Linked DNA regions of Homo sapiens. The protein of the gene in region 3 purifies or fractionates together with the protein of the main gene of each other region. This does not show direct contact. Each region holds a gene or a part of one and is shown on either strand. Other genes may lie near its edges. The genes, in order: ZMYM6, PLEKHG3, LSP1 and CAPN2.

Region 1 (7,023 bases), on a different chromosome or scaffold from region 3:
TTTTTTTTTAACTGGCTCTGCTTATTTTGTGTGTGTATGTGTGTGTTTATTTCCTAGACTCGATTTGAAGTTAAATATCAAAATGTGGTACATGGTCTTTGTAGTGATGCCTGTTTTTCAAAATTTCACTCTACAAACAACCTCACCATGAACTGTTGTGAGAACTGTGGGAGCTATTGCTATAGTAGCTCTGGTCCTTGCCAATCCCAGAAGGTTTTTAGTTCAACAAGTGTCACGGCATACAAGCAGGTATGAATATCTATTTGTTGCATGTACTTAGGCCCACTCCTTCTGATTTGGCTGCACAGGGATGAACTACAAAATGAGAGTGAGCTCCTCCCATTAGTCCATCCTGATATGTGATTTCCCTTCCAGAAAATGGGATAGATTCTGATGGTGTGAGGGATGATTGTGGTGGTAAGTTGATATAGGTAAAATAGGTCCCTTTTTTAAGGCTCCCTTCATAGCTAAGAATTTACAAATGTGATTTCTTTTCTTTTTTTGAAATCGAGATAGGGTTTTGCCATGTTGCTCAGGCCGGTGTTGAACTCCTGAGCTCAAGCCATCCACTCGCCTCAGCCTCCCAAAGTGCCGGGATTACAGGCATGAGCAACCACACCTCGGCCTCATAAATGTAATTTCATGATTTTCTGTGAGCATGAAATATTTTGTGATGTATTGATAGCAAGAAAACCATATTATAAATAAACCATAAGCAAGAGTTAAGATGATAAAATCAGTGAATCTAAACAAAGCTTGTCTTTTTCATTTCAAAATGTGTTTGGGAATGAATTGTAATTATTTGGTCAACACTGTCTCATGAGAATACTTCAAGTAATTTTATTTATTGTAATGAATAATGGATTAAGCCGGTTACTAAATATTATCACCTTGTGTCAATTTAATTATTACTAATTTGTGGTTTTAAAAAGTTTTTCTTAAAGAAGTATCTTGTAAGGCCGGCGCGGTGGCTCACGCCTGTAATCCCAGCACTTTGGGAGGTCAAGGCGGGTGGATCACGAGGTCAGGGGTTCGAGACCAGCCTGACCAACATGGTGAAACCCTGTCTGTACTGAAAATACAAAAATTAGCTGGGCGTGGTGGCGGGCGCCTGTAATCCCAGCTACTCAGGAGGCTGAGGCAGGAGAATTGCTTGAACCCGGGAGGTGGAGGTTGCAGTGAGCTGAGATTGTGCCACTGCAGTCCAGCCTGGGTGACAGAGCAAGACTGTCTCAAAAACAAACAAACAAACAAAAAAAAAAAACAAAGATGTATCTTGTAAATGATAATTAAACTTTTTTTCAGTTAGCAAGTTTGATTTGTTGCTTCCTTTGAGCAGTTGGTAATGGACATATGGACATTCATCACTGAAAAGAATCTCTTTTTTTAAGATTTGCCATTTTTGGCAGTCTGGTTCTACTTTCACAGGAAAAGAATCCATGTTATTTTATATATGATCCCAAAATCAGTTCCATTTCTAATTTTGTTACTAGTATTGTACTCTGTCTTTTTACTAGGAAGATTATGTAGTGAAACCTCACAATTTATATTTTCCTACAATTTCTTTTCATATTGAGAGACCTTATAATGTATCACTGACAGCATAGTGTAGTGGTTAGGAGCCTGAACTTTGGAGCCTGATGAAATGAGTTTAATTTCCTACTTCTTCTGCTCATCTGTTAATTTAAACTTTTTGTTAATGTAATTTTTGAGAGCGCCTCACTCTGTTGTTGAAAGGTTTCTGTGATACACTATATATAAATTTCTTAGCCTGGGGCCTGACTCATGGTAAGCATTCAGTAAGTTATAATATTGGTTATGTAAATGGTAGCTATTTTTATTATTTCTTAAAACATGAATAAACTTATAAGCAGATTTTATTATGAAACTCAGCTTGAAAAATAGGTAGTTGTGTAGGATCTCTATTAATATACATTAAATATCATTTCTATCTCCTGCTAAAGAATCTCACAAATTAAGTAACCTTAAAGGTGGTAGACTCTTCTAGATTGATGTACAAGACTATACCAAGAATGACCCTTTGGTTCATGGGTTAGCTGGTCTTCTCTGGTTATTGGTGATTAAAAAGTATGTAATGACTATTTAATTCATTACTTGTGTTTGAATTCATGTGTTTTGTTTGCTAAGATCTCTATCTGAATAGTTACTAATTTTCTTCAGTTTCTATTTTATTGTTGTCTGGAAGAACTTATTTTCCCACCTCCCAATAGTGTGGTTTCATCATCATGCTCAAATATTTCAACCAAGGACCGTGGTTGTAGGTAGCTTTTCTTTTTACTTTTTTGAACAATATGTAAATATGTATGTTTGTACTAGGTATCTAATGTTATTTTATTTTAATAGAATTCTGCCCAAATTCCTCCATATGCCCTGGGGAAGTCATTGAGGCCCTCAGCTGAAATGATTGAGACTACAAATGATTCAGGAAAAACAGAGCTTTTCTGCTCTATTAATTGCTTATCTGCTTACAGAGTTAAGACTGTTACTTCTTCAGGTAATGTTTAAATTTGATAAATTTATAGATTTAATAACTATTGAAGAAAAACGTAACTGCTTTTCTCTGATTTTGTTACAAGCTAAATTTATCTATTTAGTTAAATAAAAACCCAAGACTGACTTTTAAATAACTGACTTTTATGTGAAAATAGTTTTTCCCCGATTTTCTTGGTTGCAATATATACAGTATTTTATAATTTCATATGTGAGAGGAAAGAAAAAACACTTAAAATTTCCAAGTTAGTTTTTGTGTAAGTGGGACTTAATAGAGGTTAGTTGTGGTTAGATTTCAGATTTTTATAAAGTTCCTTGATTTTTTTGGTATATTATTGATTATTTAATTTTTTCATTCTCCCAATACATTTTTGTATTGTTTGTTCATTGGTATAACTTAATCATTGTTTTTAATTTTTTGTCACCAAGGTGTCCAGGTTTCATGTCATAGTTGTAAAACCTCAGCAATCCCTCAGTATCACCTAGCCATGTCAAATGGAACTATATACAGCTTCTGCAGCTCCAGTTGTGTGGTTGCTTTCCAGGTATGATCTAAGGTAGCACATTATGCATGTGGTTCTGTTAGGCATCGATCTGTGGCACAGTGTTAACTGCTGAAGGCCTGTTCTTATGAAAGTTTAAATTTGAATTAAAAAGAAAAAAATTTGTTTCATCCAGGGGCCCAACCAGGTCATTTCTACAAAATATCTGAACCCAGATATTGGGTCTCAGCAGTTTCTTCTTTATTTAGGATCCTAGCCTAAACTGTCATTCCCTCCCACTTTCTCCCTTGGGTCTCTCCCCTTCAAAAAGATGGAAGCTAGGATTGTGGTTTGGGTAGGTGGTATGGTGAAGAACAGTAGCCTGATGGGATTCACATACCCCTTCCTCTCATCCTGTGTCAGAAACACAGTGACTCCTGGCATGGAATTGTAAGCATCCACTTGTCCCATTTTCTCCTCCCTCTCTGCAATACATACACAAAGAGTAGAGTTTAGTAATCTCCAGGGTAGGAACATGCCTGATGTAGTATCCCTGGCATTAGGGAGAAAGAGACTGCTGGTAGCTATTGTGTCGTAGTAGCCATCAGAAGCTGGTTGATGATGGGAGTGCAGGTAGGGGGAAGTTTTAGGGGGAAGGAGAGGCCTGCTCTAATTTATTAGAGGCATATACTGGAGGTCTTTGTCAGGAAAGCCTGAATTCCAGTCCTTGACCTTTTAATGTTGTATTTCTCAGTCCTTTTATTCTGGAAATATACCATTTAAACTCTTTCTGTGAGATAGAAAATTTTAAAAAATGTTTGTGGGAGACTTGATTTATTAAAATGAGGAAATGAAAAGTACAAAGTTATCTTATTTCTCAGTTGATAAAATCTTTACCTTATTTGTTTTCATTCAGAATGTATTTAGCAAGCCAAAAGGAACAAACTCTTCGGCGGTGCCCCTGTCTCAGGGCCAAGTGGTTGTAAGCCCGCCCTCCTCCAGGTCAGCAGTGTCAATAGGAGGAGGTAACACCTCTGCCGTTTCCCCCAGCTCCATCCGTGGCTCTGCTGCAGCCAGCCTCCAACCTCTTGCTGAACAATCCCAGCAAGTTGCTTTAACCCATACAGTTGTTAAACTCAAGTGTCAGCACTGTAACCATCTATTTGCCACAAAACCAGAACTTCTTTTTTACAAGGTAAAGAGAGATCATGAAAGGGATTGTATATAAACTCATCCAGTAGAAACACTTTTGTGTTTTCAATTTTGATCACTCAATTTGCTTTGACATGAAAAGGAGTTCTTAAAGATAAAGCAACTGTTTAGTTGGCTCTTAATGGACTGTTGTTTCTCTGCAGGGTAAAATGTTTCTGTTTTGTGGCAAGAATTGCTCTGATGAATACAAGAAGAAAAATAAAGTTGTGGCAATGTGTGACTACTGTAAACTGCAGAAAATTATAAAGGAGACTGTGCGATTCTCAGGGGTTGATAAGCCATTCTGTAGTGAAGGTAAAGACAAAGTTGTTTTATTCACAGAGCATGGGTTGTTATAATTCATGACGACTTGGGCAATTAAGCCATGATTAGTTTTCACATTCTTTTTGTCTTACAAGGTGTAATTAGAAGTATTTTGGAGGCCGGGCATGGAGGCTCACGCCTGTAATCCCAGCATTTTGGGAGGCTGAGGTGGGTGGATCACTTGAGGTTGGGAGTTCAAGACCAGCCTGACCAACATGGTGAAACCCCATCTCTGTTAAAAAACACCGTCTCTATACAAAATTAGCCGGGCATGGTGCCGCACGCCTGTAATCCCAGCTACTTGGGAGCCTGAGGCAGGAGAATTGCATGAACCTCAGAGGCAGAGGTTGCAGTGAGCTGAGATCATGCCATTGCACTGCAGCCTGGGCGACGAGCGAAACTCTTGTCTCCAAAAAAAAAAAGGTTTTTTTGAATTGTGTTTATAGTTAATTCACTTTAAAGTCAATCTTTTTATTTATTATTTTTGTTTGTTTATTTTTTTGAGACAAGGTCTTGCCCTGTCACTCAGGCTGGAGTGTGGTGGCATGATCTTGGCTTATTGCAGTCTCTGCCTCCCCGGTTTAAGGGATCCTCCCACTTCAGCCTCCCAAGTAGCTGAAGCTACAGGAGCGTGCCACCATGCCTGGCTAATTTTTTTTATTTTTGGTAGAGACGGGGGGTTTCACCATGTTTCCCAGGCTGGTCTTGAACTCCTGAGCTCAGGTGGTACTCCTGCCTCGGCCTCCCAAAGTGCTGGGATTATAGGCGTGAGCGACTGTGCCTGGCTGAAAGTCAGTCTTTTTAAATGTTGCAGTAATTGCAATAAAAAACTGTAAAAATGATTACATCAGTGGTATTAATAAAGAAAATCTCTTCATAAGTTTAGCTATGACATCAGAGATCTTTTTGTTCTTGCACTCATTTGCGAAGAGGAACTTAAAACAGTTGCTGCTTCTTGGCTTAAAAAACTTTTATACCTCTAATGTTTCTGAATATAAATGGCCTAATATTTAGAGTATATTTAAAAGGTGGTGGCAGGGCGCAGTGGCTCACGCCTGTATTCCCAGCACTTTGGGAGGCCAAGGCGAGCCAGATCACCTGAGGTCAGGAGTTTGAGACCAGCCTGGCCAACATGGCGAAATGCCATCTCTACTAAAAATACAAAAATTAGCTGGGTGTGGTGGCAGGTACCTGTAATCCCAGCTGCTCTACTCAGGAGGCTGAGGCAGGAGAATCGTTTGAACCTGGGAGGCAGAGGTTGCAGTGAGCTGAGATTGTGCCACTGCACTCCAGCCTGGGCAAAACGAGTGAGACTCTGTCTCAAAAAATAAAATAAAATAAAAGGTGGTATGAGTTTGGTTTGTGAATATAGAGACTGTCCTGTAATCTAGAGGCAAATAATTGTGTATTAGAAATTAGCTTAAAGTTTCATATCTAAGACCACAGAAACTTATTATACCTCCTCAGTTAATGTAAATTTGATTTTTCTTCCTTTCATCCCTCTGATCCTCAGTTTGCAAATTCCTCTCTGCCCGTGACTTTGGAGAACGATGGGGAAACTACTGTAAGATGTGCAGCTACTGTTCACAGACATCCCCAAATTTGGTAGAAAATCGATTGGAGGGCAAGTTAGAAGAGTTTTGTTGTGAAGATTGTATGTCCAAATTTACAGTTCTGTTTTATCAGGTAAATGTGATAATATACTTTTTTTGGCTTTCTGAAATCAGTGCAAATTGTTTTTATTTAAAATGTATTCAAATTATGTGAAGAAAAATTTGGTGTTTAGCACTGGATAAAATAAGTTATGGGCTATAATAGAAAAATTCAATTGAATATAAACAGGAAATCTTTGGGATAAAAAGTATAGGATTTCTGCAGACTTTGTTGTTGGTTGGATATGTTCCTTTTATTTTTGCCTTCTTATGAGGCACTTTGCCCTTATTTGACTTCTTTCAGGTTAGAACTTCACATAATGTTGCCTGAAGTGGCTCTCTCATTCAGGTTACTCTGAGGAATTTGAAGTTAGACCTTGTCTCACTTCATAGGTCAAAGGACAATAGCTGGCAACCATTCCTACCTCATTTTTAAAAAGATTAACTTTTTGAAAGGCTAACAATGGTAGCTACAGTTAATTGAACCACTAATACATGTCTGGTGCTCTGTAAGTGTCATTTCATTTAATCCTTACCATAGTCCCAAGAGGTAAGTATATTACTGCCATTTTATAAATAAGGAAAAGGAGAGAGGTCCAGGGAAGTTAAGTAATATGCTCTTGAGGAAGCTGGTAGGTGACAGCAAGACAGCATCTATAACACTCTGGTAAATCACTGTTTGTTTTTCTACCTCTAAAAAAATAGAATTTTATTGTTGGGGGAGGGTAATATATTTTTCATGATTATATAATTAGGGCCAATCACAGTGCTTAAGACAAAGGATGTCTAATTAAATATTTGCTGAATGAATCAAAATCTTTATGACTCCAAAGCCCATATTATATCAACTACTGTAAGCTGCT
Region 2 (7,023 bases), on a different chromosome or scaffold from region 3:
CTCTGCCCCACTGGCTCAGGGCGTGGATTAGTTTCCTAGGGCTGCCTTAACAAATGACCACACACTGGGTGGCTTAAAACAGCAAATGTGTTCTCACTCAGTTCAGGAGGCCAGAAGTCCAAAAATCAATGTGTTGGCTGGGTTGGCTCCCTTCAGAGCCTCTGAGGGAGTAGGCATTCTATGCCTGTCATCCAGCTTCTGGGGTCCTGGCAGTCTTTGACATTGTTGGCCTGGAGATGCGGCCCAGCACCTTCCCATCACCTTTTTCTTTGTGTCTCTCTGTGTCCTCCTTCTCCTCTTATAAGGACAGCAGCCACTGGATTTGGGGCCCACCCTAAATCCTATCTGAAGTCATCTTGAGATCCTTAACTAATGGCATCCACAAAGACCTTATTTCCAAATAAAGTCACATTCTGGGGTTCCAAGTGGACATGAATTTTGGGGTGGACACTGTCTCACAGTAGGCAATGTCCGTGAAGTGGTGTTACAGCAGGGCCGAAACGAGGTGTGGCTAGGGAAGGTAGTGGGCAGGGTTGTGCCGGGGGCTAGGTTCTGACCACCTCCCTCCACGCAGGACTACCTCTTGAAGATCATTGACACACCCGGGCTGCTGAAGCCAGAACAGGTCAGCGCCCTCTTTGGGAACATAGAAAATATCTACGCGCTGAACAGGTGTGTGAATGGGCCTGACACTCACCATGTTCTGCCTGCGAGGCCCACCTCAGGGCCTAGGGAGGAACCCTGGATGTCCCTGGTCTCATGGGCCTGTGACATGTGGGCCTGGGGCCTGATCTCTGAGGACAGGGAAGGGTTGTCCATCTCTGTGCCCTGGGCTGATCTGCTTTCTCTCAAGGGCAGACGGGGAGGTAATTTGAGGTTGTGTGCATGTTGGGTCCATCCTGAGCCGGTGCCCCCTCAAGGGGCTGCTGGGCCCTACCTTGCACACTGGTTCTCTTCCCTGTGGAAGAGAACCTTCCCTGTCCTTCTCATCTTCATTTTCCATTTGCACATCTGTTAATTTCTTATCCTCCTTTCCACTGACCCCAAGGGCTCCCTGGAGATGATCTGACCTATTAGTGGATTGCACAACCCAGGCAAGACACATGTGGGAAGCCAAACAAGGCCTGACCAGGGGCTGTGTCAGGGCAAAAGGCATGGGTCTCCTGCCTGGGACCACAGACTCCCCCGGGAAAGTGCACTGCTCTGGAGGGGCAGGGCTTGAGGGAACAGCGGTGCTAGGACAGGAAGAATCGTATCCCAGGCCCCTTAAGATGGGCAGAGGGAGCTCTGGCTGTGTAAGCTGGAGAAGTCTGGGAGGGCAGGGTGCAGGGAGGACTTAGGCCAATGGTGAGGGGTTGGGAAAAGAGGAGGAGCACAGAGGGAGGAGGCAGGGAGCAGTGTTTCTAGGGGTGCCAGGACTCACCTGTCTCTCCCCATGTCCCACATCCTGGGCGCCCTGGCTCCTTTGCTAGTCCCCATTCTCTCTCCTTCACCCTTTAATCCTCTGCTTTTGTGTGTTTGACTCCTTCTGCCTGCAGAGGAGCTGTGTCCCCTCCCGAGGTGGGTATGGGGGTCCCCTCTTCATCTCCCTCTTGTTGAGCCTGTAGGTCTCCCTGACTTCCTGCTTTGTGGCTGCTTTGTGTTGGATACTTTCTGTGGTTGCTGCCTGGGGCAGGACTCCCTCTGAGGCTAGAAGCCCCAGTTCTTTAGCAAAGCAATAGGGCTGGCTGTCAGTCAGGGTTTGGGAGGTTGGGGAGGGGGCAGTGAGGGGCATTGTCCTCTGACTGCAGAGGGTACAGTGGCTGCTCTCCCCTCACCCAGCCAGCTCCTCAGAGACCTGGACAGCTGCAATAGTGACCCCGTGGCTGTGGCCAGCTGCTTTGTGGAAAGGGTAAGAAGGGCTGGGTCCTTGCCTCTGTCCTACCTTGCTGAGAGCTCAGAGAGACAAGAACTGCCAGCATAAGAGGACATCTGAGTCCTGGGGATTCCTTTCCAGGGAAAGTCCTGGGTGCTCTATCTTGAATGAGAAGGGTGTTCTGAGGGGAGCCAGGGCTGCTGGGTGGATGGGATGTCCTTGACAAATAGGTATAAAGATGGCTCTGTAGGCATTTGGGAACAGGGGACAGAGGGTGCTCTGGGGGCCAGGGGCCTATCTGCTACCACCATCTTTACTGTCAAATGAGAATCTCCCTGAAATCACTATTTTTGATCTCTTCTTAGAGCCAAGAGTTTGATATCTACACTCAGTATTGCAACAATTACCCCAAGTGAGTAATTGGGGTGAGAGGGAAGGCAGAGCCATTTGGTGAGTCCAGAGCCCCCCACTTCCTCATCCAGGCCTTCCCCAGGTGGTGACTGGCCCTTCTCCCACTCCCAGCTCCGTGGCCGCCCTGACGGAATGCATGCGGGACAAGCAGCAGGCCAAGTTCTTTCGGGACCGGCAGGAGCTGCTACAGCACTCGCTGCCCTTGGGCTCCTACCTGCTGAAGCCAGTCCAGCGCATCCTCAAGTACCACCTGCTGCTCCAGGTAGCCCCTCGGTCCTCCCAAGCACCTAGGGCCTGGGGAGGGCAGGGCCTTCGGGTCAGGGGCACCTAAGCGTCTATCTTCTGCGCAGGAAATTGCCAAGCATTTTGATGAAGAAGAGGATGGCTTTGAGGTGGTGGAGGATGCCATTGACACCATGACCTGTGTGGCCTGGTACATCAACGACATGAAGAGGAGGCATGAGCACGCGGTCCGGCTCCAGGTGCTCTGGGGCTGGGACGCTGGGGGAGGGGCAGGGCTGGGTGGGCCAGGCTTCCGCTGGGAAGAGGGACTGTGGCCACCCTGCTGGGATGAGCTGGGCAGTGGCATTGGGGGAGCCTTTGTGGCAGGGTTTGCAGAGCCTCCTAAGGCCCCAGTGGCCTGACTCTAGGGATTGGGGCCCCTCTGCTGCAGGAGATTCAGTCACTCCTCATCAACTGGAAGGGGCCCGACCTGACCACCTACGGGGAGCTTGTCCTGGAGGGCACATTCCGCGTGCATCGCGTGCGCAATGAAAGGACCTTTTTCCTCTTTGACAAAACACTGCTTATCACCAAGAAGCGGGGCGATCACTTTGTCTACAAGGGCAACATCCCGGTAACCAGGCCCTGCCCCATCTCCTCTGCCATCTTCTCTCCTTCCCAAAGGATCTGGGCTCCCCTTCTTGTCTGCTTCTTGGGGCTCCAGCACCACCCTTCTGAGATCACCCTCCCTGCTTCCCCAGGCTGTCAACCTTGTGCTTGACTGTCCTTTCCCTCTGCCCCTAGTGCTCCTCCCTGATGCTGATCGAAAGCACCAGAGACTCCCTGTGCTTCACTGTCACCCACTACAAGCACAGCAAGCAGCAGTACAGCATCCAGGTGAGGGGAAGGTGGGGCTCAGGGGCTAGGGAACAAGATGCCCAGGGGACACCTGCGTGGGACTCCTGGCTCCTCTGCTCACCTAGCTGCCCCAAGCCCCAGTGTCTCCATCTGTGAGGCAAGGATCATTGCAGGCACCTCTCAGGGTCAAAGTGAGGAGTCAGGTTAACCTCACAGAGGCCCCAGCATGGCCCCACTTTTTCTCCCTGGGTGGAAGCACTGTCCATGCTAGACAGCTTCAGGCCTGTAATGATAACCACTGGGTCCCTTTCCCTTGGGTCCTCCCAGGCCAAGACAGTGGAGGAGAAACGGAACTGGACTCACCACATCAAGAGGCTCATCCTAGAGAACCACCATGCCACCATTCCCCAGAAGGTGAGTTCCCCCAGCTCCTGACTGTGTGCAAGGAGAATGTGCTCCTCTGAGCCAGCTCTGCAAGGTCCATTGGGGGCTCACCTTCTGGATTTGGGCTCCAGTGGACAGTGAGTGTCAGTACAGCAGATGCCCCGGGCCTTGGTGCAGCACTGTGGGGTGTCCTCGTACAGCAACAGTGGGTCCTATGGGCAGGGAAGGCCGGCACATGGTAAGGTAATAACCAGGTGTGTTTCCTTCCCCTTCAGGCCAAGGAAGCCATCTTGGAAATGGATTCCTATTGTAAGTGTACCCTTTTCTGCCTGTTTTGTCCCTAATCGTGCACATTGCTAGGTCAGGCTGCATCCTGGGGAAGCTTTACCTGATAATTTTATTCCAGGAGCAGGGAGGGCGGGGGTCTCCTGTTAAGGGCTGGGGGGTGAACTACATGATTAAGGATGCTCTCCTGCTGAGCGGTGGGACTCTCAGTGCCTGAAGCTCCCAGCTGGAAGATGGAGGGAGCTCTGGAGGCTCCTGGCCCTGGAGCTGGGTGGGTATAGAGGTCTGGCTGGTTATGGACAGGGTCTAGGGTAGGCCAAGGCCAATTGGGAATCAAAAGCTTGATCGTCTCTCTCCTGGGTGCAGATCCCAATCGGTACCGCTGCAGCCCAGAGCGGCTGAAGAAGGCTTGGTCCTCCCAGGATGAGGTGTCCACCAATGTGCGCCAGGGGCGCCGGCAATCTGGTAAGAGAAGGGCTGTGGAGGCAGGAGGCCTCTCCCTCACACCCTTGCCCAGACTGGGGACCGTCTGCGGCAGTGTCCAGGGCTGTGGCTCTCACCTCTGCGGAAACCCTGGGAAAGGCTAGAGCGGGGCTGGACACACACCTGGGGCTCATCCTCTCCCTGTGCTGGTGCTCCCCACACCAGGTACCCCTGGGCCCTCGTTGCCTACCAGGTCTGGAGCCCACCTTTTTCTTACTTTTTTCTTTTCTTTTCTTTTCTTTTTCTTTTTTTTTTTTTTTTGAGAGATGGAGTCTTGCTCTGTTGCCCAGGCTGGAGTGCAGTGGCTCGATCTCGGCTCACTGCAACCTCTGCCTCCTGGGTTCAAGCGATTCTCCTGCCTCAGCTTGCCAAGTAGCTGGGACTACAAGCGTGCACCACCACACCCAACTAATTTTTGTATTTTTTAGTAGAGATGGGATTTCACTATATGTTGGCCAGGCTAGTTTCGAACTCCTGGCCTCAGGTGATCCGCCCGTCTCGGACTCCCAAAGTACTGGGATTATAGGTGTGAGCCACTGTACCCGTCCAGCCCACCTTTTTCAAGGCCCTAGGAATACTTGCTCGCTCCGGCCTTGGCACCCCTTCTTAGCCCCCTCCCTCCTTTGCCTCTCTGGAATACCAACACCAAGTCATTCAGGAGTGACACTTGGACATGGCGGATGGGCCCAGCCCAGTCCTGGAACAACCGAGCAGAAGCAGGACCCGGGGAAAACGAGTTCAGTGGCACCAAACCCAGACAGGAAATATTTATTTTGGGTCTCAGGAAAAGGTTCCATTTTCCTCCCTTGAGTTTTCTTCCATTCCTGGACTTGCTAGGGTGTTCTTGGATTATTGGAATGAATCGTCTATTTGAAAAGAGAAAACCTTGCTTTTATTCTAAACTCCGTGGTGATGGGTGTGTGTGTTTTCAAAATTGGTTTTTTCGTTGCTATTTAGTGCAAGGCCCAAGGACAGGTCTGGCTTAAGCCAGGTGTCTGCCAAACATATACCCAAGGTGGGAGTTGGGGTGAGAATTGTCTTTAAGACCCTGGGAGAGAAGGATTCTAAAGTGACTGAGAGTGGTGTCCTGGCTTGGGTCCCACAGATGTGTTGGGTTTTGATTGGTGATGACCTGTGGGTCCCCTGAATGTGTGTGTGGATTGACATGTGGGTGTTAGCCTTCGAGAAGGTGGAGCAGTGGCTTATAGAAGGCTTTTGTGGTTTTATGTTGTTGGTATTGCTCTGGGTGGATCTTGAGCCCTAGGCCACCTTGCTATGGTTGCAAAAGTTTTATGGTTTTTATAGTTAAAAGCTCCAAATAGGGGTGTTGCTTTCTTCTCTCTAGCCCTCTTTCTTTTCTCTTCTCTTCTCTTTTCTTTTCTTCTCCTGTAATTCTCTTCTTGTCCTCCTCAACTTGCCATACCTTAAAATTTGAAGCTTCTAGCACACTGATGTGTTCAGCAAGTGATAACGTTGGTGGTAGTGATAGTAGCTCTATCCTAGTGTTAGCATCGAAACTTTAGCTATGGATGTACAACTCTTTGAATATACTTAAAGCCGTTGAATTGTACACTCTAAATAGGTGAATTGTATTTGAATTATATTTCAATAAAGCTGTTACAAAAAGCCCCCAAACTTTAGGTGTCCAAGGCACTCAGGAAATGAGCCATTTTAAAGAGCTGAAGTTTCCACATGGCTGAGATTTTTAGCCTGTAAATACTAAGAGTTGGATTTTTTCAAAAAATATTTAAAAAATGTTTTAACAGTTATGAAATTCCCTCCCTCCCTCCCTCCCTTCCTTCCTTCCTTCTTTCCTTCCTTCCTTCCTTCCTTGTCTGTCACCCAGGCTGGAGTGCAGTGGCACCATCTCTACTCACTGCAACCTCTGCCTCCCGGGTTCAAGTGATTCTCCTGCCTCAGCCGCCCGAGTAGCTGGGATTACAGGCACGCGTCACCACGCCCAGCTAGTTTTTTTTTTGTATTTTTAGTAGAAACAGGGTTTCACCATGTTGGTCAGGCTGGTCTCGAACTCCTGACCTCAGGTGATCCACCCGCCTCGGCCTCACAGAGTGCTGGGATTACAGGCATGAGCCATCCCGCCTAGCTGAAATAGACATCTTTCTAAAGCATGTTTTGTACTCTTGAGCCTTTTAAAACAGAAGGTGCTGGCCACCGTTGAACCTTTCCTTTTCTGGAGTTAATGCTACAGCATCACTTAGGGTGTGTGAACTGCCAGATGCTTGAGGGGCCCCAGAGGCTGTGGGTTGCCATAGAGACAGCCTGTGTTTGGTGTGTCGTGCCCCTCTTCACGGTTCTTCTGTAACACTGAAGTATTTGTTTTCATTGGTCTAAGTATGCTTGTCTGTAGTAGCCCTTCTTCCCCTCCTGTCTGTTAGAAAGCGATCGTTCAGGCCAGGTGTGGTGGCTCACTCCTGTAATCCTAGCACCTTGGGAGGCTGAGGTGGGAGGATCACTTGAGTCCAGGAGTTCAAGACCAGCCTGGACAACACAGTGAGGCCTCATCT
Region 3 (7,023 bases):
CTGGCTCGCAGCGGACGCGCCTGTGGTTGAGCCGGCGACAACAGGGCGCCCCTCACGTGTCTGGGGGCAGCCGCTCTTCCAGCCCTGGGCTTGGCCAGCAGCTGGCCAGGGGCATGCCTGTCACTTGGGGCTCACCCGCGTCTCCGTCTCCCACCCCAGCCCACACGGTGTTGCGGCCTGACCCAGGCTGTGTACTTGGGGCCTGCTTTGTGCTGGGGTGGCATGGAGGACAGAGCCCTGGAGGCAGGTTCTAGCCCCATCCCTGGAGGGACTCGGCCTCTGTGGCCTCATTTCTACACTAGGGTGATGGTGGGGCCACCCCAAAGTCCCCAAGGCACAGTCGAGCTCAGCATGTCCCTGGCAGGTTCTGGGTGCTCAGGAAGCAGAATACTCAGGCCTCCACACCCCTGGCCCCAGGTCCTCCTTGGACCACAGGAGACACAGGCCTCCCACCTCAGGAGGGAGGAGGGCTGGCCTGACCACTGTCCCTCCCACCCTAGGACACAGTCATGCTCATATCGGCTGCGTCGATGGCACCCGAGGTGTGCGGCCCAAGCCTCCAGGGAACCCCTGGACCCCCACCGCCCCTGCTGCCCAAGCCAGGGAAGGACAACTTGCGTTTGCAGAAGCTCCTGAGGAAGGCAGCCCGGAAGAAGATGATGGGAGGCACACACCTCGCTCCACCCAGGGCCTTCCGCACCTCCCTGTCCCCCGTGAGTGAGGCCAGCCATGACCAGGAGGTCACAGCCCCGCACGCTGCTGAGGGCCCGCACCCCGCCGAAGCCCCACGCCTTCCTGAAGCCCCACGCCCCGCCGAGGCTCCCCGCATGGTGGCTGCCCTACCCCGCTCCCCGCACACCCCCATCATCCACCACGTGGCATCACCCCTGCAGAAGTCCACGTTCTCCATCGGCCTCACCCAGCGCAGGATTCTAGCTGCTCAATTCAGGGCCATGGGGCCCCAGGTTGTAGCCTCGGCCCCAGAACCTACCCGGCCCCCCAGTGGCTTCGTCCCTGTCTCTGGGGGTGGGGGCACCCACGTCACCCAGGTGCACATCCAGCTGGCACCATCCCCACACAATGGGACCCCTGAGCCTCCCAGGACAGCCCCAGAAGTGGGATCCAACAGCCAGGATGGAGATGCCACCCCAAGTCCCCCCAGGGCCCAGCCCCTGGTCCCAGTGGCTCACATCCGCCCACTGCCCACCACAGTCCAGGCTGCCAGTCCCTTGCCTGAGGAGCCCCCTGTACCACGGCCGCCACCCGGCTTCCAGGCCTCAGTGCCCAGAGAGGCTAGTGCCAGGGTTGTGGTGCCCATAGCCCCGACCTGCCGCTCGCTGGAGTCCTCACCGCACAGCCTGGTCCCCATGGGCCCTGGCAGAGAGCACCTGGAGGAGCCCCCGATGGCTGGCCCCGCCGCTGAGGCCGAGCGAGTGTCCAGCCCTGCCTGGGCCTCATCCCCTACCCCACCATCAGGCCCTCACCCATGCCCTGTCCCCAAAGTTGCACCCAAGCCCCGGCTCAGTGGCTGGACGTGGCTCAAGAAGCAGCTGCTGGAGGAGGCCCCAGAGCCTCCGTGCCCAGAGCCGCGGCAGAGCCTGGAGCCAGAGGTGCCCACCCCCACAGAGCAGGAGGTGCCTGCCCCCACAGAGCAGGAGGTGCCCGCCCTCACCGCACCCCGGGCCCCCGCCTCCCGGACCTCCAGGATGTGGGATGCCGTGCTGTACCGCATGTCAGTGGCGGAGGCCCAAGGGCGCCTGGCAGGGCCCAGCGGTGGGGAGCACACCCCAGCCAGCCTCACCCGCCTGCCCTTCCTGTACCGGCCTCGCTTCAACGCCCGGAAGCTGCAGGAGGCCACCCGGCCCCCTCCCACAGTCCGCTCCATCCTGGAGCTGAGCCCCCAGCCCAAGAACTTCAACCGCACAGCGACTGGCTGGAGGCTCCAGTGAAGTGGCCAGAATGGCCCCCAGAGCCCAGGACCATGGGATGGACAGAAGAAGGGGCTGAGGCTCTAGCTGGGGGCCCATAGTTGCTGCATGAAGATGCACCAGGGCCCAAGGGGCATGGGGTGCAGGGCAGCCTGGGAAGGGCACATGGGGTGCTGAGGGAAGTCTGCATGGTTAGGAGGGTGGTCAGGTGGACGGGGCAGAGAGGACGAGCTGGAGCCCCTGGGCTGCAGTGGTGTGAGGGGAACAGAGAAGGGGTCTGCGTCGGGATGTAGGATGGGGGCCTTGGGATGAAAACTTTAGGTAAGATGGCAGAGGACTGCATCTACTGACCTAGCCCAGGCTCCTCAGGGGCCTGGGCCTCTCACTGATCCTCCCTTTTGCTGTCACCTTTTGCTGTCAAAGGTTTGGGGCCAGATCTCTGCTTGCTGAGGCATGGGTGCGGTCAGGCTGGCTTGGCCATCGGCGTCAGGAGCAGTCAGCAGTTTTGCTGCCTGTGCTTCCTGATGGCAGAGCCAGATCCTGGGACTAGGGTGCAGGGGGGAGCCCTCAGCCAGCGTGGGACTTGGCACCAATACAAGTGCTCAGGGGCAGGCAGGGAGGGGCTCATCAGGGGTGGAGGAGGGCCCAGCGTGACCTCTCTCTCGGCCCACCTCTGCTTCCCCTACCTGGGCTGACAGCCTGAGGGGGCAGAACTCGAGGGATTCGCTGGTGGGACAGCGAGGGTCTCAGCACTGGCCATGCCCAGGCTTTGACAGCTGGATGAGGAGGGAGCCCTCAGTCCCAACCCTATGGGAACAGCTTGGCCAAGCGGGACAGAGAAGGGGCTGTGGCCCTGGTGGGGAGAGTGGAGGGGCCTACTCAGCAGTCAGCCAGGCTCTGGTGGGGGTGGCCAACCACAGGAGAGGGACACAGAGGTACCAGAAAAAGCCTCTGCCACAGCTGCTTGAGAGTCAGGGTTTGGCAGGGGAAGATGGTAGGAGGACAGCTGCCCCACCCTGTGGTGTGATGGGTGCTGGAAATGGAGCCTGGGGCCCAGGTCACTAATAAATGTGTGTCTCACCATGGCAGGAGTGGCACTGCTCTGTCTGCAGCATGGGATGGGGAGGGCATCAGGACCTCTGAATCGCTCTCGGCTGGGACAGGGAGTAGGACCTAAGTTCCTGCCCCTCTATGGACCCTCAGCATACAGATGGTCAGGGAACCTGGGCTCCATGCCACCTGCTTCCTTCAATGCTAGCCCTGTGGTGGCCAGGCTGCCCCTCACTTCCCTCACGAGCCCTGCTGTGGCTTTTGGGGAGTCCCAGATGGGAGCCTTGAGCTTCCCTAGTGGAGCAGTGGCTGAGCCGGGCTGACTCTAGTGAAATGAGCAGAGAGTTTGAATCTGGTATCAGGTGAGAGAGGCAGCATCTGCACAGGACTGGGAGACTGAGCTGGTCTGGGTTCTGGCCAACTCGGAGTCCACCCTTGTAGCCTGCAACAGGGCTCCAGGCAGCCTCCAGGTTGCCAAGTTCCCAGCACAGTGCACGTGTGTGCACCTCATCCCCTTCTGTGAGTTGCCAGGGACTCACCGAGATGGGACGCCTAGGGAGCCGGGCCCCCTTCCACAAGCACCTTCTCATACTTCCCATGCCCGGTGGCCACAAACTTATACCTCTTCCCAGATGGGGTGCTCTGTTGGGAAAGGAGACCAAGAGTGAAGGTGAGAGCAGCAGAAAGGAGATGATGCTGCCTCCGCCTCTGGGAAGCCCTCCCAGATGCACAGAGGACAGTCCCTCTTTGCCCTCCCCTGCTGCACCCACCCTGCCTGCACCAACCACATTTAGGCTCTACCTTAATTGTTGATGAGGTCTTGGAGCCTCCCTTCTGCTCCCAGAGGCTTTTCTTGCTCATGTCTCCAGCCACAATATCCTGGGGGCAGCAGAAGGGTATGTCACAAGGGCAGACCCCTGGATCTTGGGGAGTAGAAGCCCTGGGCCCTTCTCTCCCGCCTTGCCTTACCTGGCCAGGGGGCCTGGGATCTGCCTACCTAAACTTTTTCTGTGTGATCCCAGTGGAAGAGGCAGGGAAAGGAATAAAGGTGCCATCTACCTCCACTCGGACAACACAGCCTTCTACACCAGCAAGGGTGAACCCAACCCTACTGCAATACCTCAGGGTTCTGTATACCCACATTCATCCTGGACAGTCCCATGCTTGTCTTAACAAGGAAACCCGGCCTGCTACTAAACTCCCAGGCGCTGGCTCTGCAGCCCAGCCTTGCCCCTGGAGGGGACCTTACCTTGCAGGACGGAGTCTTGGCCGCAGACTGAGCCTGTACCTCACCCGTCTCCCACCGACTCTTGGTACTGGCCACAGCCATGCTGGGCAGCTCTATGGAGGCCTGGCGGGCTAGCTTGGGGGTCCGGCCAGCGGTCTGCAGAGGAGGAAAAGCATCAGGATTACCTTAGTGGACAGCCACCGTGGTCACATCAGAGGGTCACACTGGGCAACCGTCTGCTTTGTGTTTGTGTTTTCCCTGGGAGCGCTTTCCCAATGCAGCCCCAGAGTGGGGATCACTGGAAAGATGAGCCTTCCTCCATTCGATGCAGTTGTGAGACACCTCCCTGTCCTGAAGAGCATCAGGGAGATGATGGCGCACAGGACAGATGTGGGTCTGCCTCCATGCTCCTCATGGGGTAGGGCTGGGGGACCATGGGATGGATGGAGGGACATTGAATGGATAGAGGGACAATGGTTAAATTTCAGAGTATTGGTTGGATGGAGGAGCATTGATTAGATGGAGGAGTATTGGTTGTATAGAAAGGTGTTGATAGATGAAGGAATATTGATTGGATGGAGGAGTACTGATTATATGAGGGAGTGTTTGTTAGATGGAGGGGCATTGATTGAATGGAGTAGTATTGGTTGGATAGAGCCGTATTGGTTCAATGAAGGGGCATTGATTGCATGCAACGACGTTGATTGGATAAAGGAGTATTGGTTGGATGGAGGGGCACTGGTAGGATGGAAAGGTATTGACTGGATGGAGGAGCAGTGAATGAATGAAGGAGTATTGATTGGATGGGGAAGTATTGGTTGGATGGAGGAATATTGATAGGATACAGGAGCATTGATAGGACGGAGGAGTACTGGTTGGATGGAGAGGCATTAATTGGATGGAGGAATATTGGTTGGATAGAAGGATGTTGGTTGGATAGAGGAACATTGATTGCATGGAGGAGTACTGGTTGGATGGAGGAGTATTGGTTGGTTGAAGGGGGATTAATTGAAATCAGAAGTATTGCTTGACTAGAAGGGCGCTGATTGGGTGAAGGAGTAAAGTATGGATGGAGGGGCATTAATTGCATAGAAGAGCACTGATTGGATGGAGGAATACTGGTAAGATAGAGGAGTGCTTGTTGGATAAGTGAGTACTGGGTGGATGGAGGGGCACTGGGTGGATGGAGGGGCACTGATTTAGTAGAGTGTTGGTTGGATGGAAGGATACTGGTTAGATGGAGATGTCCTGATTAGATAAAGAAGTATTGGTTGAATAGAAGGGCATTGATTGGAAGCAGAGGCATTGATTGGGTGAAACTATTTTGGTTGGATGGAGGGAAATTGATGGGATAGAAGGCCATTGATTGGGTGCAAGGCATTATTGGATGGAGGGGCATTGACTGGATGAAGTTGTTTTGGTTGGCTGGAGGGGAATTGATTGAATGGAGGAGCACTGAATGAATAGGGGTATTGATTGGATGAAGGTGTATTGGTTGGATTGAAGGGAGTTGGTGGATGAAGGACTATTGGTTGGATGCAGGGACATTGACTGGATGGAAGAGTATTGGATGATTGGATGGAGAGGTACCGATTGAATGGAGGGGCTGGCATGTGGGACTGGCATTGGTTACATGGTGAGCCATTCATTGGATAGATGAGTATTGGTTGGATGGAGGGTATTGGTCAGATGGAGAAGCATTGATGGATGGAGGAGAATTGATTGGATGGGAGGGACATTGATTGGATGGAGGGACATTGGATGCAGAGGCACTGATTGGATGGAGTAGTATTGGATGGAGGGATGAATCTTGATTGGATGGAGGGGCACTGATTGGATTAAGGAGTACTGGTTGGATAAAGGGGGATTGATTGACTGGAGGAATATTGGCTGGATAGAGGAGCATTGATAGGATGAAAGAGCATTGATTGGGTGGTGGAGTACTGTTCCGAGGGGGGCATTGATTGAATGGAGGAACACTGAATAATTGGAGGAGTATTGGTTGCAGGAGTATTGGTTGTATAAAGGAACATTAATTGGATGCAGAAGCATTGATAGGATGGGAGATTATTGGTTGGATGGAGTAGCATTGATTGAAAGGGGGGGCATTGATTACATGGAGTGACATTGATTAGATGGAGGGGCATTGATTGGGTAGAGGGGCACTGACTGGATGGAGAAGCATTGGTTGGATAGGGTGTTGGTTGAATAAGGCGGCACTGATTGGATGGAAGGGCGTTGGTTGGATGAAGGAATGGTGCCAGGATGCAGGAGGGACCTGACAGCAGAGGGGAGCCAGGTCATACCTCGATGGCCTGGGTGTATTGTTCCAGCCACTGATCAATCTTGGAGATGGGCAAGTCTGGCTGGGATTTCTTCACACTGTTACTGGAGGGTAGAAGATGTGTCAGGCCCCATGTCTCCCACAAGGCTTCTCCCAACCTGCCCAAGCCTCTCCCAGAGCCCCCCTCGGTCTCCAGATCTCTACCTTGTGACTCCCTTCAACCCCCACTTGGTTAAACCTAAGATCTGAGCCCAGAAAGCAGACAGACAGACAGACAGACCTCTTCTCTATGGAGCGGTTTAGGGACTCGGTCCTGTCGATGAGCTGCAGAGGGTGGAGAGAGACACAGGCCTGCAGCAGCCGAGGTAAAGCCCACCCTCCATCTCCCCAGCTACTCCAACCACTAATCCAACCCCCAACCCTTATATCATGGGGGTTCGCTGAGCACCGGGCAATGGGGGGATAGCAGACAAAAGCCAGGCCTGGGCCTGGTCTTCCTGTGGCTGGCATGTGGGATTGGCCTTTTGGGTATG
Region 4 (7,023 bases), on a different chromosome or scaffold from region 3:
GCTGGAGTGCAGTGGTGCAATCATGGCTCACTGCAGCCTTGAAATCCTGGGCTCAAGGGATCCTCCTGCCGCAGCCTCCCAAGTATTCGTATTATAGCTGGGACTCCAGGTGTACGCCACCACACCCAGCCCAAACTCCCATTCAAAGCCTGTGTGCTCAGAAGCCTCTGCAGCTGCGCTGGTTTCATTCTCTCACTGTGGAGCATCTGCTGCGAATCAGGTGCAAGGCTGGGCTCTGAGGGCACAGTTCAGCCACCAGAGTTCTGGGTCTTTCAGGGAATGAAATTTCCCATCTCTGCCCAACCACAACACAGCAAAAACATTTCTCCCTTTGCATTTCCCTCAAAATACTAGGTTGGTGCAAAAATCACAATTACTTTTACACCAACCTAATAGCCCCCAAACCCTCTGACCCAACCCTCATATGGGGGACTGCCTGAAACTTCACTCTGTCTATTCACAGGTTGTCTTAGGCTTTAAGCCCCTGGAGGTGGAGACAAGATTTTTAACATCCTCCTGGTTCTAAGACCCTCTGATAAGAGCTCCTTGTGCTGTGTTCACAGGTGACTGCTGGCTGCTGGCAGCCATTGCCTCCCTCACCTTGAATGAAGAAATCCTGGCTCGAGTCGTCCCCCTAAACCAGAGCTTCCAGGAAAACTATGCAGGGATCTTTCACTTCCAGGTAACTTAATGGTTGGCTCAGGTGGTTCCTCAACAGGTCCAGGGGGCTAGGAACAGTCTTCTGGCTTGGCTGGGTTCATCAGTCCCTGGTGTTTGCAGACTCCCAAGACCAATACTGTTCTACAAAGGACATTGGGCGAGAGCAGGAAGCTTCCTGGCTTACCCGTGGCCAGGATGTGAGACCCGGCTGGGATGGCCCTGGGTGGTTTCTTGGGACATGTAAAAGGGAGGTAGAGCAAGGTGTTCAGGAACTAATTCCCAAGTTTAAAAAAAAAAACTGTATTATTTGATGTTTGAGACAAAAACGTTGAAGTTCTCCTCCTTTTATGCCGGTAAATGAGAAATAATACTTGAAAAAGCTGGCTGGGCACGGTAGCTCATGCCCGTAATCTCAGCACTTTGGGAGGCCGAGGTGGGCAGATCATTTGAGGTCAGGAGTTCGAGACCAGCCTGGCCAACATGATGAAACCCCATCTCTACTAAAAGTACAAAAATCAGTTGGGCGTAGTAGTGCAGGCCTGTAATCCCAGCTACTTGGGAGGCTGAGGCAGGAGAATCACTTTAACCTGGGAGGCAGAGGTTGGGAGGCCAAGGTGGGTGGATCACTTGAGCCCAGGAGTTCGAGACCAGCTGGGGCAACATGCTGAAACTCCGTCTCTACTAAAAACACAAAAAAAATTAGCCGGGTGTGGTGGCACGTGCCCTTAATCCCAGCTACTCGGGAGGCTGAGGCAAGAGAATCACTTGCATCCAGGAGGCAGAGGTTGCAGTGAGCCGAGATCGTGCCACTGCACTCCAGCCTGGGCAGAGCAAGACTTGGTCTCAAAAAAAAAAAAAAACAGCCTAAGGTACAGGGCAGAATGCTAAAGAGGCGGGTGTGGATTTGAAAGGATGGACATGCGCCTCTGTCTTCGCTTTTTTAGTGAGGACTTGGCCTGCATAGGAGAGTTAAGGGAGCACCTCCTCCCAGGATGCGCTCATGGAACCTATCCCAGGGGATCAGGGCAAGGGGAGCCAGAGGCAGCTGAGGCTCAGAGTCCCAGTGCTGCCACCAGCTCCTCCTGCAGCCCACCTCTCTTGTTCTGCAGTTCTGGCAATACGGCGAGTGGGTGGAGGTGGTGGTGGATGACAGGCTGCCCACCAAGGACGGGGAGCTGCTCTTTGTGCATTCAGCCGAAGGGAGCGAGTTCTGGAGCGCCCTGCTGGAGAAGGCATACGCCAAGTAAGTTGCCATCCTCCCCTGGCCCCATGGCCTTCCCCCAATGCCCTGGATTCCAAAAAATTCACTCATGCCTGTAATCTCAGCACTTTGGGAGGCCGAGGTGGGTGGATCATTTGAGGTCAGGAGTTCGAGACCAGCCTGGCCAACATGATGAAACCCCGTCTCTACTAAAAATATAAAAATCAGTAGAACTACTCCAGGACTACTTTGAGTGGGAAGTCCTTTTCTATAGAAGGACTTCTTTGGCCAAAATTAGGCTCTAAATGCAAGGAGATAGTGCATGCAGGGTGCCTGGCTGCACTGTACGCTGATAAATGATGTCTATCACCATCTTTAACCAAATGCACAGGAACAAGTTATGGTACTGATTGTGCTGGACTTGAGAAGGAGCTCTACTTCCTTGACAGGACACATTTGTATCAACTTAAAAAAGCAGAATTTTTGCCAATGGGCAGAACTATTCATTGCAGAGGTAGGAAACTTGCCCAGAATAGATGATGTCACTGATTAGCAATGGCTTCCCCATCTCCGCACAGCTGCTTCCCACCCAGGTTGCCCACAGTTGAGTTTGTCCAGTGCTCAGGGCTGCCCACTCTCAGTAAGAAGCCCCACACCAGCCCCTCTCCACAATGGCCCCATGTTGGCTGTGCCGCCCGGCTCCTTCCATTAAAGTGACCCCACTTTAGAGCAGCAAGTGGATTTCTGTTTCTTACAGTCCCAATCCAGGAAGGAGGAGTCAGCTGTGAGAACCTGGAGCCTGACGGATGCTTCTAAGTCCCACTGCTCAATACTGGGGTCAGGGAAGCCACCGGACTCCAGCATCAGCAGTCAGGAGCACTAAGCCCTTGCCAACACCGTGCCTGTTTCTCAGAGAAACTGCTTCCATTATTGAATGGTTGTCCTTTTTTAAGCTATCAATGCCAAACGACCCATTAGTAGACCTCCCCTTTCTTGTCAGGATGTAGAAGGAATCAATACAGGAGGTTCATCCAGAAAATCACTAAGGTCCTTCCGACTCTAAGGTTCTACGAGAATCTTTTTTTTTTTTTTTTTTTTTAATACGGAGCCTCATTCTGTCACCCAGGCTGGAGTGAGCGGCATGATCTCAGCTCACTGCAATTTCCACGTTCTGAGTTTCAGCAATTCTTTTGCCTCAGCCTCCCAAGTAGCTGGGACTACAGGCATGCACCACCATGCCCAGCTAATTTTTTTGTATTTTTAGTAGAGATGGTGTTTTGCCATGTTGGCCAGGCTGGTCTTGAACTCCTGACCTCAAGTGATCCGCCCACCTCGGCCTCCCAGAGTGCTGGGATTACAGGCATGAGCTACCGCGCCCGGCCTGAGATTTTCTTTAAAACACAAAATACCAGGGAAATGGTAACTGTGGACATTATACCTTGCCTTCCTGAGCACCCCGAGCTGGGAACAAGGCCAAGGAGAATGTGAGCAGGGGGTCCCTGGAGCATCAAATCTAGACGGTACTAGGGGGTGGCTGTTTGAGAGATTATAGCATCAGTAGTGTCAAGGGTAGCGGCAGCGTCTAATCCCCTCTTGTAGGATCAACGGATGCTATGAAGCGCTATCAGGGGGTGCCACCACTGAGGGCTTCGAAGACTTCACCGGAGGCATTGCTGAGTGGTATGAGTTGAAGAAGCCCCCTCCCAACCTGTTCAAGATCATCCAGAAAGCTCTGCAAAAAGGCTCTCTCCTTGGCTGCTCCATCGACGTAAGTCCAGGCTGCCTTCCCTAGCCTCACCCCATCTGCTCTTGCTGAAGGGAGGCTCCCACAGTGCCCAAGGGAACCCACTGCTCCTGTGTACAACGTAATGCAGCCCTCGTCCACGTAGGGGCCAAAGGAAAACCTCCCTCCACCCTCTGAAGGTCCGCTGAAAATCAACTGGCAAAAGGAAGACTAATACAAGAAATGGCATACAAATGTATGAATGTGGACAGGGGAGAATCACAAGAGATTTCCCTACCACGCATTGGGATACAGAGGGTTATATTCCCTTCCTCTTAGGGGAAGGGAGATGGGGAGGTGCGGATGATTTTAGGGATGTCGTAAATGATTTTTAGGGGAATTCATTGGGCTTAAAGAACATAAATGGTCTGGGATAAAGTCTGTTGGGCCTGCAGAGCAGACAGTGGTTTGTGACAAGTCTGTCTAGCCATGTTGACAGACTTGTCTTTCTTCCTGCAATATGAGTTCAGTTCATAATAACTCATGGAAAGGACCAGACGTCATTGTTTTCATCTTTGGCAGGTCCAGACTTTAGGCAGGTGAGGGAACTTCAGAGAATAGCTTCCTCCTGTGCTTTGGGGGAGAGTGGATCGAGAGACAGAAGGAAAGGGGAGGTCAGAGAGATCTTGAGGCTTCTTCAGTTTAGCATTTCAAAGTGCCATCTCTTAGAGGTATTGGTTTCTGAGCACCCCAGTGTCTACCATTATTGCTCATCACCTGGAAGCCAAGGGTTGCTAGGCAAAAGTCAAGCTGTCTGGGGTGTAATGGATGGGGTGATGGTGCCTCCAGCCCTTCTGTCTTCAGTCCACTTCCCACTCTTAGCCTGCTCTGAATCACCCCCACCCCTCTGACCACAGGTTCCCTGGGAGCCCCTGCCACCTGCTGCCCCTGCCACCTTCCCCTCCATCTGCAGTGCTGTGCAGCCTTCCCCTGCACTCTTGCAGAGCTAATAGGCCCGTGGGAGACTTCGGAAGGAAGAGGAGGAAAGATTTCCTCATAATAGCCTTGCTGGCAACGCTCACCAGGGGATGGGAGGTGGGCACTGTGCCCAGGAGCCTTGGAGCAAAGGCTGTGCCCAACCTCTGAGCCCTGTCCCATCCAGGTTCTGGTCTCTGCGGGGGACAGAGATAAGAAGCCCTGGCTTTTGGAGCCAAAATCTAGGTCAGACTCCCTAGGCAGGAATTCTCAAAGTTTATCAGCAGAACACGTTGAGGCAGAAGACCCTTTCTGCTCCAGCCCTTCTTCCCAGGCTCAACCTTCATCAGAATAGATAGGGGAAAGGAGAGGCTGTGAGGCGTTCTTAAAACAGAAGCAAATTCTGACTCAGACCGGAATAAACAACCGTCCTAGTATAAACCCTACAGCTGGGCTGGGCCAGACCACGGAGCATGGGCTGGTGGTGGGGCGAGGGTGTGCTCAGTGTCCCTGGGCCACTCAAGGCTGTCTGGGTATCAGCCCTGCGCCATCGAGGACCCCCTCCGGCCCTCTCTCGGCCGTGCGCCCTTTCCCTGCGCCATCGAGGACCCCCTCCAGCCCTCTCTCGGCCGTGCGCCCTTTCCCGCCCTTCCCAGCCTGCAGAAATCCGTGGATGCGCTATTCACACGGGAATGCCTGTGCTCGTTCCGCGAGAGGGTTGCATTCCGCCTTTTCTCTGGTATTCTCGGCGTTCAAGCATTTGAACGGGGTAGGAAAGGTTCTCCAAGTGCAAGAAAGCGCAGCCCTGAGCCTCCCACCCCAGGCCTCGGCCGCTGCGCTAGTGCGTCCGGCGGTCCCGCCCGGCAGTAGGACAGAGGGAGCGAGGGAGTCCGGGAGGAAGGGAGAGCGGGTGCGGCCAGTCTGACGGTTGCTGTGTTTGCAGATCACCAGCGCCGCGGACTCGGAGGCCATCACGTTTCAGAAGCTGGTGAAGGGGCACGCGTACTCGGTCACCGGAGCCGAGGAGGTAACGGCCGGCGCGGATGTGCAGGGGTCCTGCTGTCCTGACACGATGGCCACAGGCACAGTTTGTGGTGATGCCCAGGGGCCCGCGCGGCCCCACGGTGGTCCAGTTTACACTCGGGCCCCGCACTCCTGAAGTTCCGCGCGGGAGGAGAAGGGCGTCCCTTTCGCAGCTCGGGCGCCGGGTGCGCCGCGCTGCCACCTGGTGGCCGCAGTGGCCGGCGCCAGGGGCCCTGGTTTTACTTGTTTTAGATGTTACCCTGTTTTACAGTTACAACCTTACTATTTTGATAAGCTAAAAATAATAAAACAATGCATCTTCATAGTGTTTTATACTCTATAAGGTGCTTTCTCTTTTGATCTCGTAAAAGTATTCGTGCCCATGTTCAAATCTGACTGCCTCTTACCAGCTGTGTGGCCTGGGCCAATTACTGGAACTCTCTGTCCCTTAGTTTCCTCATTTAAAAAATGGAAATAATGATAATATCCATTGGAAGGTCGTGGCGATTCAATCAAGTTAATATATGTAAAGTGCTCAGAGGTGACTCACACATCATATATAAGGAGGTAGCTGTCCTTGCTGTTGTGATCACTGTTGTTATTGAAAATATTATGGGCTGACATGGTGGCTCACACCTGAAATCCCAACACTTTGGGAGACCGAGGTGGGAGGATCACTCGAGCCTAGGAGTTCAAGACCAGCCTGGGCAACGTAGCAAGAACCTGTCTCTACAAAAAAAAGTTAGCTGGGCATGGTGGCATGCCACTGTCGTCCCAGCTACTCGGGAGGCTGAGGTGGGAGGATCACTTGAGCCCAGGAGGTCGAGGCTGTAGTGAGCCATGATCATGCCATTGCACCCCAGCCTCAGCGACAAAGTAAGACCATGTCTCAAAAAAAAAATTATCAAGCAACTCAAGTTCACTGTTAATTACAGAACCCAGTCTAGACCGCAGATCTTCTGCATGTCCAGTGTTCTTTTTTTAACCTTGATTTTTTTAACTACCCCCTCACACACACACGTCTTTTTATTTGAAAATTTTCACGTATACAGAAAAGTTGAAAGACTAACATAATAACTATCCAATTGCCACTCCCCTAGATTCACCGATTGCTAACATTTGCCATGTCTGCTTTATCTATGTGTGCACTTTTTTTGAGCCATATGAAAGTAAGTTGCAGACGTTATGACACTTCCCTCCTCAATACTTCAGCATTTATTCCCTATGAATAAGGACATTCTGTTACATAATTCCTCTACTGTTGCCACACCTAAGAAAATAACATTAATTCAGTAGTGTCATCTATTATAAAGTCTATACTAACATTTTCCCAGTTGCCCAAAATGTCCTTTCTGGCGACCCACCCCAACCCCATCCAGGACTCAATCCAGATTCACTCACTGCATGTGCCTGTTATCACCAGTGATCTTTCAACAAATGG

Evidence for each region.
Region 1: the proteins of LSP1 (region 3) and ZMYM6 purify together in Homo sapiens (affinity purification with mass spectrometry; 2 studies listed by BioGRID and IntAct, with this or other methods). This does not show direct contact.
Region 2: the proteins of LSP1 (region 3) and PLEKHG3 purify together in Homo sapiens (affinity purification with mass spectrometry; 2 studies listed by BioGRID and IntAct, with this or other methods). This does not show direct contact.
Region 4: the proteins of LSP1 (region 3) and CAPN2 purify together in Homo sapiens (affinity purification with mass spectrometry; 2 studies listed by BioGRID and IntAct, with this or other methods). This does not show direct contact.

Annotation. Positions count from the first base shown.
Region 1 is NC_000001.11:35,007,923-35,014,945, reverse strand, and holds part of ZMYM6 (zinc finger MYM-type protein 6), read left to right. Parts: intron 1-57; coding exon 58-249; intron 250-2,364; coding exon 2,365-2,515; intron 2,516-2,940; coding exon 2,941-3,056; intron 3,057-3,909; coding exon 3,910-4,188; intron 4,189-4,348; coding exon 4,349-4,499; intron 4,500-6,021; coding exon 6,022-6,194; intron 6,195-7,023. UniProt on the Homo sapiens protein: Plays a role in the regulation of cell morphology and cytoskeletal organization.
Region 2 is NC_000014.9:64,728,422-64,735,444, forward strand, and holds part of PLEKHG3 (pleckstrin homology domain-containing family G member 3), read left to right. Parts: intron 1-574; coding exon 575-672; intron 673-1,821; coding exon 1,822-1,891; intron 1,892-2,220; coding exon 2,221-2,267; intron 2,268-2,377; coding exon 2,378-2,528; intron 2,529-2,616; coding exon 2,617-2,748; intron 2,749-2,939; coding exon 2,940-3,122; intron 3,123-3,292; coding exon 3,293-3,385; intron 3,386-3,673; coding exon 3,674-3,760; intron 3,761-4,005; coding exon 4,006-4,039; intron 4,040-4,381; coding exon 4,382-4,480; intron 4,481-7,023. UniProt on the Homo sapiens protein: Plays a role in controlling cell polarity and cell motility by selectively binding newly polymerized actin and activating RAC1 and CDC42 to enhance local actin polymerization.
Region 3 is NC_000011.10:1,884,071-1,891,093, reverse strand, and holds part of LSP1 (lymphocyte-specific protein 1), read right to left. Parts: intron 6,815-7,023; coding exon 6,771-6,814; intron 6,595-6,770; coding exon 6,513-6,594; intron 4,363-6,512; coding exon 4,228-4,362; intron 3,858-4,227; coding exon 3,780-3,857; intron 3,621-3,779; coding exon 3,531-3,620; 3' UTR 3,518-3,530; intron 3,108-3,517; exon of another isoform or gene 1,950-3,107; coding exon of another isoform or gene 510-1,949; exon of another isoform or gene 1-509. Other genes in the region: PRR33 (proline-rich protein 33), read left to right, coding at 510-1,949. UniProt on the Homo sapiens protein: May play a role in mediating neutrophil activation and chemotaxis.
Region 4 is NC_000001.11:223,743,537-223,750,559, forward strand, and holds part of CAPN2 (calpain-2 catalytic subunit), read left to right. Parts: intron 1-563; coding exon 564-682; intron 683-1,769; coding exon 1,770-1,903; intron 1,904-3,460; coding exon 3,461-3,629; intron 3,630-5,502; coding exon 5,503-5,586; intron 5,587-7,023. UniProt on the Homo sapiens protein: Calcium-regulated non-lysosomal thiol-protease which catalyzes limited proteolysis of substrates involved in cytoskeletal remodeling and signal transduction. Proteolytically cleaves MYOC at 'Arg-226'.